2 linked regions of the Homo sapiens genome follow. The protein of the gene in region 1 purifies or fractionates together with the protein of each later gene. This does not show direct contact. Each region holds a gene or a part of one and is shown on either strand. Other genes may lie near its edges.

Region 1 (3,823 bases):
CACTTTGGGAAGTTGCTCTTGGTTCCATTTCTTGTCTGATTGTGCAGTGGATAATTCCCCTTCTAAAATCTGATTTGGATAAGTTGATGTACACAGTTCACAGCCCAGTTCCCGATTTCTTTTAGGCACTTTTGTGATACTGACGTGGTGTTTTCTACCCCACTGCATGTTTCTCTGATAGGTTGTACCTGTGGAGTATAAGGACAATTCTAATACGCAACATGCATGCTATGAGAACCTCTATAATTATAAAGCTGTGATGCGTTATGTTATCACTAGCCCTTCTACCACTACCCACCAACTTCCTGCCTTATTTGTGTTTTATAAATGTCTGTCTGAATTGACACAAGAAGCTACTGGGTATGGATGAGGGAACAGGATGTCTCAATTAAGAGTGCTCTGACTACCTCAGAAAAACAGCACTCCTGCTTTCAGTAAGTGCATGAGTAACCAACATTATGTAGTGACAGATTTATAGAGATCTTGTGACTGAGTCATGGACAGATAGTAGAAGAGAAAAGATATGTCTTCCTTTTTTCAGAATGGAGCAGTTTCATGAGGCAAAGCCTGAGTGTTGTAGGAGTTGTTTTTAATTTCAATTTAGTTCCATTTGCCTTGTAATTGAAATTATTCCCAAATTTTGGCATTCTCTTATCCTTTGTTTTCAGTTATATGTGTATGAATTTTTACTTTATTCTGTATTCTAGGTATTTAGTGGGATATTAGAGGACGCTGTGTCTAGGGCTGCTAGCCAAAGTCCATTTAAACTGGAAGACTTTGGGCACACTTTATCTTTCTTCTTACTTAACCTATTGTTGTGCCCGTGTTTCCCAAGTTATGTATTCATTTTTCTCATGAAAAATCAATCTTTTCTGATTCTTCTTTTATCTGTGCCACCCCCCCACCCCCCCCACCACCACATGTTTGTTTGAGATTAGATCCTTACCAATCTCCCTGTTCCCTTATGTGCCTTGGTAGGGACTCTGTATCCCTAATGCAGGGTCTGGCATGTGGGTGCCATGCTGTGAGTATATACAATTTCAAAAAATGAATCTTACCTACTATGGTATCTTTATTATCCAAACCTCCTTGATGACCAGATCTGTTCATCTAATTATCTACTAAAAATGCCTTGCCTGTATTCCTCATAAGTTTCTTAAGATCACCATGGCCTCAGGTGGATTCATTCTTCTTCCTTATTTTATATTTCTTGCCCTAATAAATGGTGCCCCATCCAGCATCCAGTCAGTCACCAAAACTATAGAAATCTAGGAATCTTTGTTTTTTGCTTCCTTTCTCTTTCTCCTATCCCACAACCAGTTGATATTACCATCTTTATTGATACTTTTATTCATCAATTGATATTGATATCATCTTAAAAGATGTTGAACTATCTCCTCTGTATCCCAAAACTGTTACCTTTCTTTAGGCCCTTAACTGTTGCTTAGATGATTGTTCCATTTCTGTTTCTCTGTGGCTTTCCCTGCCCCTACCCATATACAGTCTAGCACGCTTTCATATAGCATATCAAACAGGAGTTGAGAGCATGAACAAAGGAAGACCAGTTCAGAGAGTACTCTCATTGAAGTCAACAATTTTATCATTTTTATATGTGTAATATACTTAACACCACATATAACTTCTGCTTTAGGCTAAAGGAAATTATTTTTAGAGAGAGAAATTCCAAAGGACAACTCGAAGTTATGGTTCACAAACTTCAAAATGAAATTAAAAAACTGACTGTTGAACTAATGAAAGCAAAAGATCAACAAGAGGATCACCTTAAACACTTAAGAACCCTCGAAAAAACATTAGAAAAAATGGAGAGACAAAAAAGGCAGCAGCAGGCAGCACAGGTATTTCTCTATTTTAATATATGAGTAGCACAGATTAACACAAATTCATAGCTTCTATCGTGAAACAAATTATACTACCTAGAAAACCTAAAAGATGTAAGGCCATATGCAAAAATTAAATTGCTGTTAATTTAACGGTCACATAGCCTGTTGAATTATGTCTAAATTAAGACTACTAGCTCTTAACACAAAGCAATTAAAAAGAAAAGTTGATGGAAATGTTGCAGGTGGTTAGGCTTTTATTCTGAGAGAGCTGGCTTTTTAAAAGGCTTTCAGGTGATTGAAGGAATTTCATTTTCATGCTTTCTGAATGGAAATTATCATTAAAATCTGTGATGCAAATAAGCAATAGTTAATGCTAGTGTATTTGTTCCTTCCAAGGCTGCACTTTGTGTGACTGTAACATCATTAATTTATTAAAGTTTGAAAATCAACTTAGTCACCGGACACTGTCATTTAAAAGGTACTTATGGAAACTGACATTAAAATAGCAGGGGAGACTATTATCTAAATAATGTAATTGTGGGTATTTTACTCAGATAAGACTGATCCAAGAGGTGGAACTCAAAGCTTCAGCTGCCGATAGAGAAATATACTTACTTAGAACTTCCCTTCATCGAGAAAGAGAACAAGCGCAACAACTTCATCAACTTCTTGCATTGAAAGAACAGGAACACAGGTAAATGAAAAATGTATCAGGAATGTATTGGCATTTAAAAAAAGAAAAAGAAAGCTACTGGTTCCCCACTACCAGTATTTTTTTTTTTTTTTTTTGAGACGGAGTCTTGCTCTGTCGTCCAGGCTGGAGTGCAATGGCGCAATCTCGGCTCACTGCAAGCTCTGCCTCCCGAGTTCACGCCATTCTCCTGCCTCAGCCTCCCGAGTAGCTGGGACTACAGGCGCCCGCCACCATGCTGGCTAATTTTTTTTTTTTTTGTATTTTTAGTAGAGATGGGGTTTCACCATGTTAACCAGGATGGTCTCGATCTCCTGACCTCATGATCTGCCCCACTCGGCCTCCCAAAGTGCTGAGATTACAGGCATGAGCCACCGCGCCTGGCCCCCACCACCAGTATTTAAAGATAGTGATTGAGCATTGGTGAAGTCTGACAGAATTAGTTAGTGGAAAATGCCGTGTTCATGTATGTATACATTAGAATCAGCCCTATAGCAAGAACTAGTAGCTAAAAAATGAATAGTTGCCTTTGTTATCAGCATTTGAGGTATAGGTTTATAACAATATAGCTTATTGTTCATTTCTTCAAACCCAGCCAAAAGTTGGTCTTTATATAGAGAGAAAATTTTTAATTGACCCCCAAGTTAATTAATTAGTAAATTAATCAGTATTCTTTATTCCTCTGAAGGAGGGGTCAGTGAACTTTTTCTGTAAAGGGTCACATAGAAAATATTTCAGGCTCTGCAGGCCATACCTAACTTTGCCTTTGTAGCACAAAAGTAGCCATAGATAATACATAAATGAACGGCATGGCTGTGTTCCAATAAAAGTGTATTTACAAAGAAAAAGGCAGTAGGTCACATTTGGCTGATGGGCTGTAGTTTCTCAACTCTTGCTCTACAGAATCTGTAATAATTTCAACATTTTCAGTTTATCTATTTCAGTTATCTATTTACTATCCTACCAGTGAAATTGTATGATTATCATATGTTAATTGTATTTATTCCGAAACCTGTTTTGTTTTGTGTCTACATAAATTTTGGTGCTCTGGGGAAAATTGTTATCTTGTATAGATGAGACAATTATAAAAGATTGGGGGAAAATAATCACAAAAATCTAGAATTTTGTACTTTGTTTCCTTTACAGGAATTTTGTACTTAGTTTCCTTTACTTAGTTTCATTCCAGTTTAAAGAAACCAAAAACTGGAAATAATGGGTTTCACATTATGAGTTTGAGTAATGCAAGAAAAGTAGTGGAGAACCGTAAAGAATGAACTAACTGGCCCAATAT
Region 2 (3,823 bases), on another chromosome or scaffold:
TGGTTGCCTTCAGTGTCAGCCTCAGAACATTGAGGATATACTTCAAGTGTATTTGCTTTCCTTTTAATAACCCAGTAGGTATCTGTTACCTTGAAATTCATATAAACTTTTCTGAATGTGTTTATCTTAACTTTGCATTACATCATGGGTAACAAATTGTGTAAATTTACTAACCACATTATGAAATGAATCCTACATTTTATTTGGCTCTTTAAGCCACTTCCTTTACATGTGGAGCAGGTGAACTCCATTGTCATATGGTATAATTTTGTCAGCAGGTTCATTTTTCATTCTACTCATATTCTTGATAATTTCATAATCTTTATATTTTAGAAAGGTTATAGAGGCTTTAATCTTTTAAAACGTATCCTATTATTTGTCTCTTCAGTTCAGTGTTTCTCAACCTTAGCTATAATCTTAGAATAATCAGAGGGAATGAATACTAATTCCCTGGACTCTACCCCAGATCAATTAAATCAGAATCTTAGGAATGAGGACCCCTAGCATTAGTATTTTTTGAGCTCCCCAGTATACAGCAAGGATTGAGAACCACTGCTTTAGTTGTTTTTTTCTGTTTTTACATTATCTATAAAAGTTTGGTGATTTCAACACTTTTATTAGTATTCCCTATATGGATGGCTTTTTATAGAATTTGGGATATAATTTCTTTTTCCATTGTTCTTTCTGATGATAGCATTTTATTTTTAGGCAGTAGAATATTATAATTTGAATCACCTCCTTCTGACTGAGATGTAATGACAGAGTAATCTTTGAGCTGGAATGAACTTTGGAAATAATCAGCTCAGTTAGGTAAAGTGAGGTTCAGAGGGAGGCTGAATGACCAAGAATGAAATAGGTTTTGTACAAGCTGTCACTTACATCTCCAGATATCTTTACAGTTTTATTTTTTCATATTTTTTGTCTAGGGGCCAGGCTAATCATCTGTATCATTCCAATTTGAGTATATGTACTGCTACAGCCAGCACTCTTTACAGTTTTCTTTAAAGCCCTTTCAGATACACTGTACCATTTAAACTGTACAACCTTCTGAGGTAAGCAGAGCCACACTGATGCTTATTTATTTATTTTTTTTAGATAACAGGCATAAAGATTTTACTGTGTTTTACTGCTTTCTAGCTTATTTTATTGGTTGCATTTAAGATTTTCTCTGTCTTTGGTGTTATGTAGTTTCATTATGATGTGTCACAGTATAGATTTCTTTTTCTTTTTTTGAGATGGAGTCTAGCTGTGTCGCCCAGGCTGGAGTGCAGTGGCACAATCTCGGCTCACTGCAACCTCCGCCTCCTGGGTTCAAGCAATTCTCCTGCCTCAGCCTCCCGAGTAGCTGGGACTACAGACGCCCGCCACCATGCCCTGCTAATTTTTTGTATTTTTGGTAGAGATGGGGTTTCACTGTGTCAGCTAGGATGGTCTCTATCTGACCTCGTGATCCGCCCGCCTCAGCCTCCCAAGTGTTGGGATTAGAGGCGTGAGCTACCACACCCAGCCTATATTTCTTTTTATTTTGTTTGGGACTTCATTAGACTCCTTGAATTTGTGGATTGGCTTCTCATTAGTTCTGCAGATTTCTCAGTTGCTATCTTGTTAGGTTTGTCCTCGATTGCATTTTCCTTTCTTCTCCTTTTGGGTTTTTGATTACATGATCTTAGGGCTTCTCCATTATCTGCTCTGTATTTTCCATCTTTTTATCTCTCCATGCTTTATTCTCGATAATTTATTCTGACTTATTTTCCAGTCTGTGAATGACATATCTTCCACTCCATTAATTTTCTCTTCAGTTGAGTCTGATTTGTTAAAACCATCCACTGAATTTTTAGTTTTGGTTATTGTTGAAGTTCATTTTGGTTTCTTTTCAAATCTGCTCGGTCATTTCTTAAAAAAATATTGTTCTGTTCTCTGCAGGTATTTTCAGTGTCATCTTTAATTCTTTAAACATAGTAAGTAGTTATTTTTTAGTTAGTGTCTTTGCGTTTCCTTTATCTGAGGTCTTAGAGGTGCCTTTGTGTGGTCTGTTGTCTCTGCTGGTTCTTGTTCATGACGACGTGTTCCCTTGTATCCTTAGTTTACCTTTGTGTGCCGCCTGCTGTCCTTGAAAAACTGTGAGACTAGACAGGCACGGTGGCTCATGCTTGTAATACCAGCACTTTGGGAGGCTGAGGCGGGCAGATCACCTGAGGTCCGGAGTTCAAGACCAGCTTGGCCAACATGGTGAAACCCCGTCTCTACTAAAAATATAAAAATTAGCCAGGTGTGTTGGCACATGCTTGTAATCCCAGTTTCTCAGGAGGCTGAGGCAGGAGAATCACTTGAACCCAGGAGGCGGAGCTTGCAGTGAGCCAAGATCGCGCCACTGTACTCCAGCCTGGGCAACAGAGTGAGACTGTCTCAAAAAAAAAAAAAAAAAAAAAATTAGCTGGGCGTCGTGATGGGCGCCTGTAATCCCAGCTACTCGGGGGGCTGAGGCAGGAGAATCACCTGAACCTGGGAGGCAGAGGTTGCAGTGAGCCGAGATTGCACCACTGCAATCCAGCCTGGGCAACAGAGACTCCACCTCAAAAAAAAAAAAAAAAAAAAAAAAAAAAGACAAAAAGAAGAACTATGAGACTAATCTGAGCTCTCAAATAAAGGTATCTTCTTCAGAAAGGTTTTTTTTTGTTTGTTTTTTGTTTTTTACATTTCCTTCTGGTAGATGTCTAGAGTTATTACCAGTCTGGGGCCACTTTATTTTTTATTTTTATTTTTTGAGATGGTCTTACTGTCACCCAGGCTGGAGTGCAGTGGTGTGATCTTGGCTTACTGCAACCTCTGCCTTCCAGGTTCCAGCGATTCTTGTGCCTCAGCCTCCGGAGTGGCTGGGACTATAGGTGTGCACCACCACGCCTGGCTAATTTTTGTATTTTTAGTAGAGACGAGGTTTTGCCATGTTGGCCAGGCTTGTCTTGAACCCCTGGCCTCAAGTGATCTGCCCGCCTCCGCCTCCCAAAGTGCTGGAATTACAGACGTGAGCCACTGCCAGGCCTGGAATCACTTTAAAGTAAATGCATTACTTAAGATGTTTGGGCCACCCAGCTGATGTGAATTTTGGTTGTGAATACATTTGAGGGCCAATATACTTCTGTTTTGTCTTTGCTTTGAAGACATAAGCCCTTTAGGGATCTAGCTAAATGTGAGGTATATCACCTATTAGACTGTCCACTCTGGAGGGGTAGGGTGTTTGATTTTTGCTCCTTGAGTCCTGCAAGGCTGTTTGTTGTGATTGGTCAATATCCTAAGGGCAAAAATGGCTTTTTGTTCCTTTACCTCACTGGGTTCCCATTTTCCCTTTTATTTTGGCCAGATAATTCCTTCCTATTTTTGTGTTGCTTTTAAGAAAATTGTGAAAATATTTTGTCCAGAATTTTTGGCTGCGTTCAGTAGAAGAATTGTTGTGGGGCACCATAACTGGAAACTGAATTCTCTTATTTTACTTTCAAAATCTGACAAATAAGAATGGCCCTACTAATTTTTGGGGGAGAAATAATGTTGACAGACAGCACTTCTTTATCAAGAGATGTGCCTATTTAGTCCTGAACTTTATTTCAAATCTACTTTTCTTTGAATGGTAAAGGGAGACCTACAGTTTTTCTCCAAAATCTTGATAACTGAAGCAGAGTTTAAAACAAACAAAACCCTTTGCTATGCAGTCAATGAAAGGTGTTTGAAAGTTCAGATAATCTGGATAGAGTCCCCTTTGCCCACCTGCTATCTCCTTGATGTCAGCTATACTTTTGATTTGCTAATGTGTGTAGCATCCAGGTTTCAA

Evidence for each region.
Region 2: the proteins of LRRCC1 (region 1) and STRN purify together in Homo sapiens (affinity purification with mass spectrometry; 2 studies listed by BioGRID and IntAct, with this or other methods). This does not show direct contact.

The regions. Positions count from the first base shown.
Region 1 is NC_000008.11:85,127,524-85,131,346, forward strand, and holds part of LRRCC1 (leucine-rich repeat and coiled-coil domain-containing protein 1), read left to right. Parts: intron 1-1,651; coding exon 1,652-1,856; intron 1,857-2,395; coding exon 2,396-2,535; intron 2,536-3,823. UniProt on the Homo sapiens protein: Required for the organization of the mitotic spindle. Maintains the structural integrity of centrosomes during mitosis.
Region 2 is NC_000002.12:36,956,525-36,960,347, reverse strand, and holds part of STRN (striatin), read left to right. Parts: intron 1-3,823. UniProt on the Homo sapiens protein: Calmodulin-binding scaffolding protein which is the center of the striatin-interacting phosphatase and kinase (STRIPAK) complexes.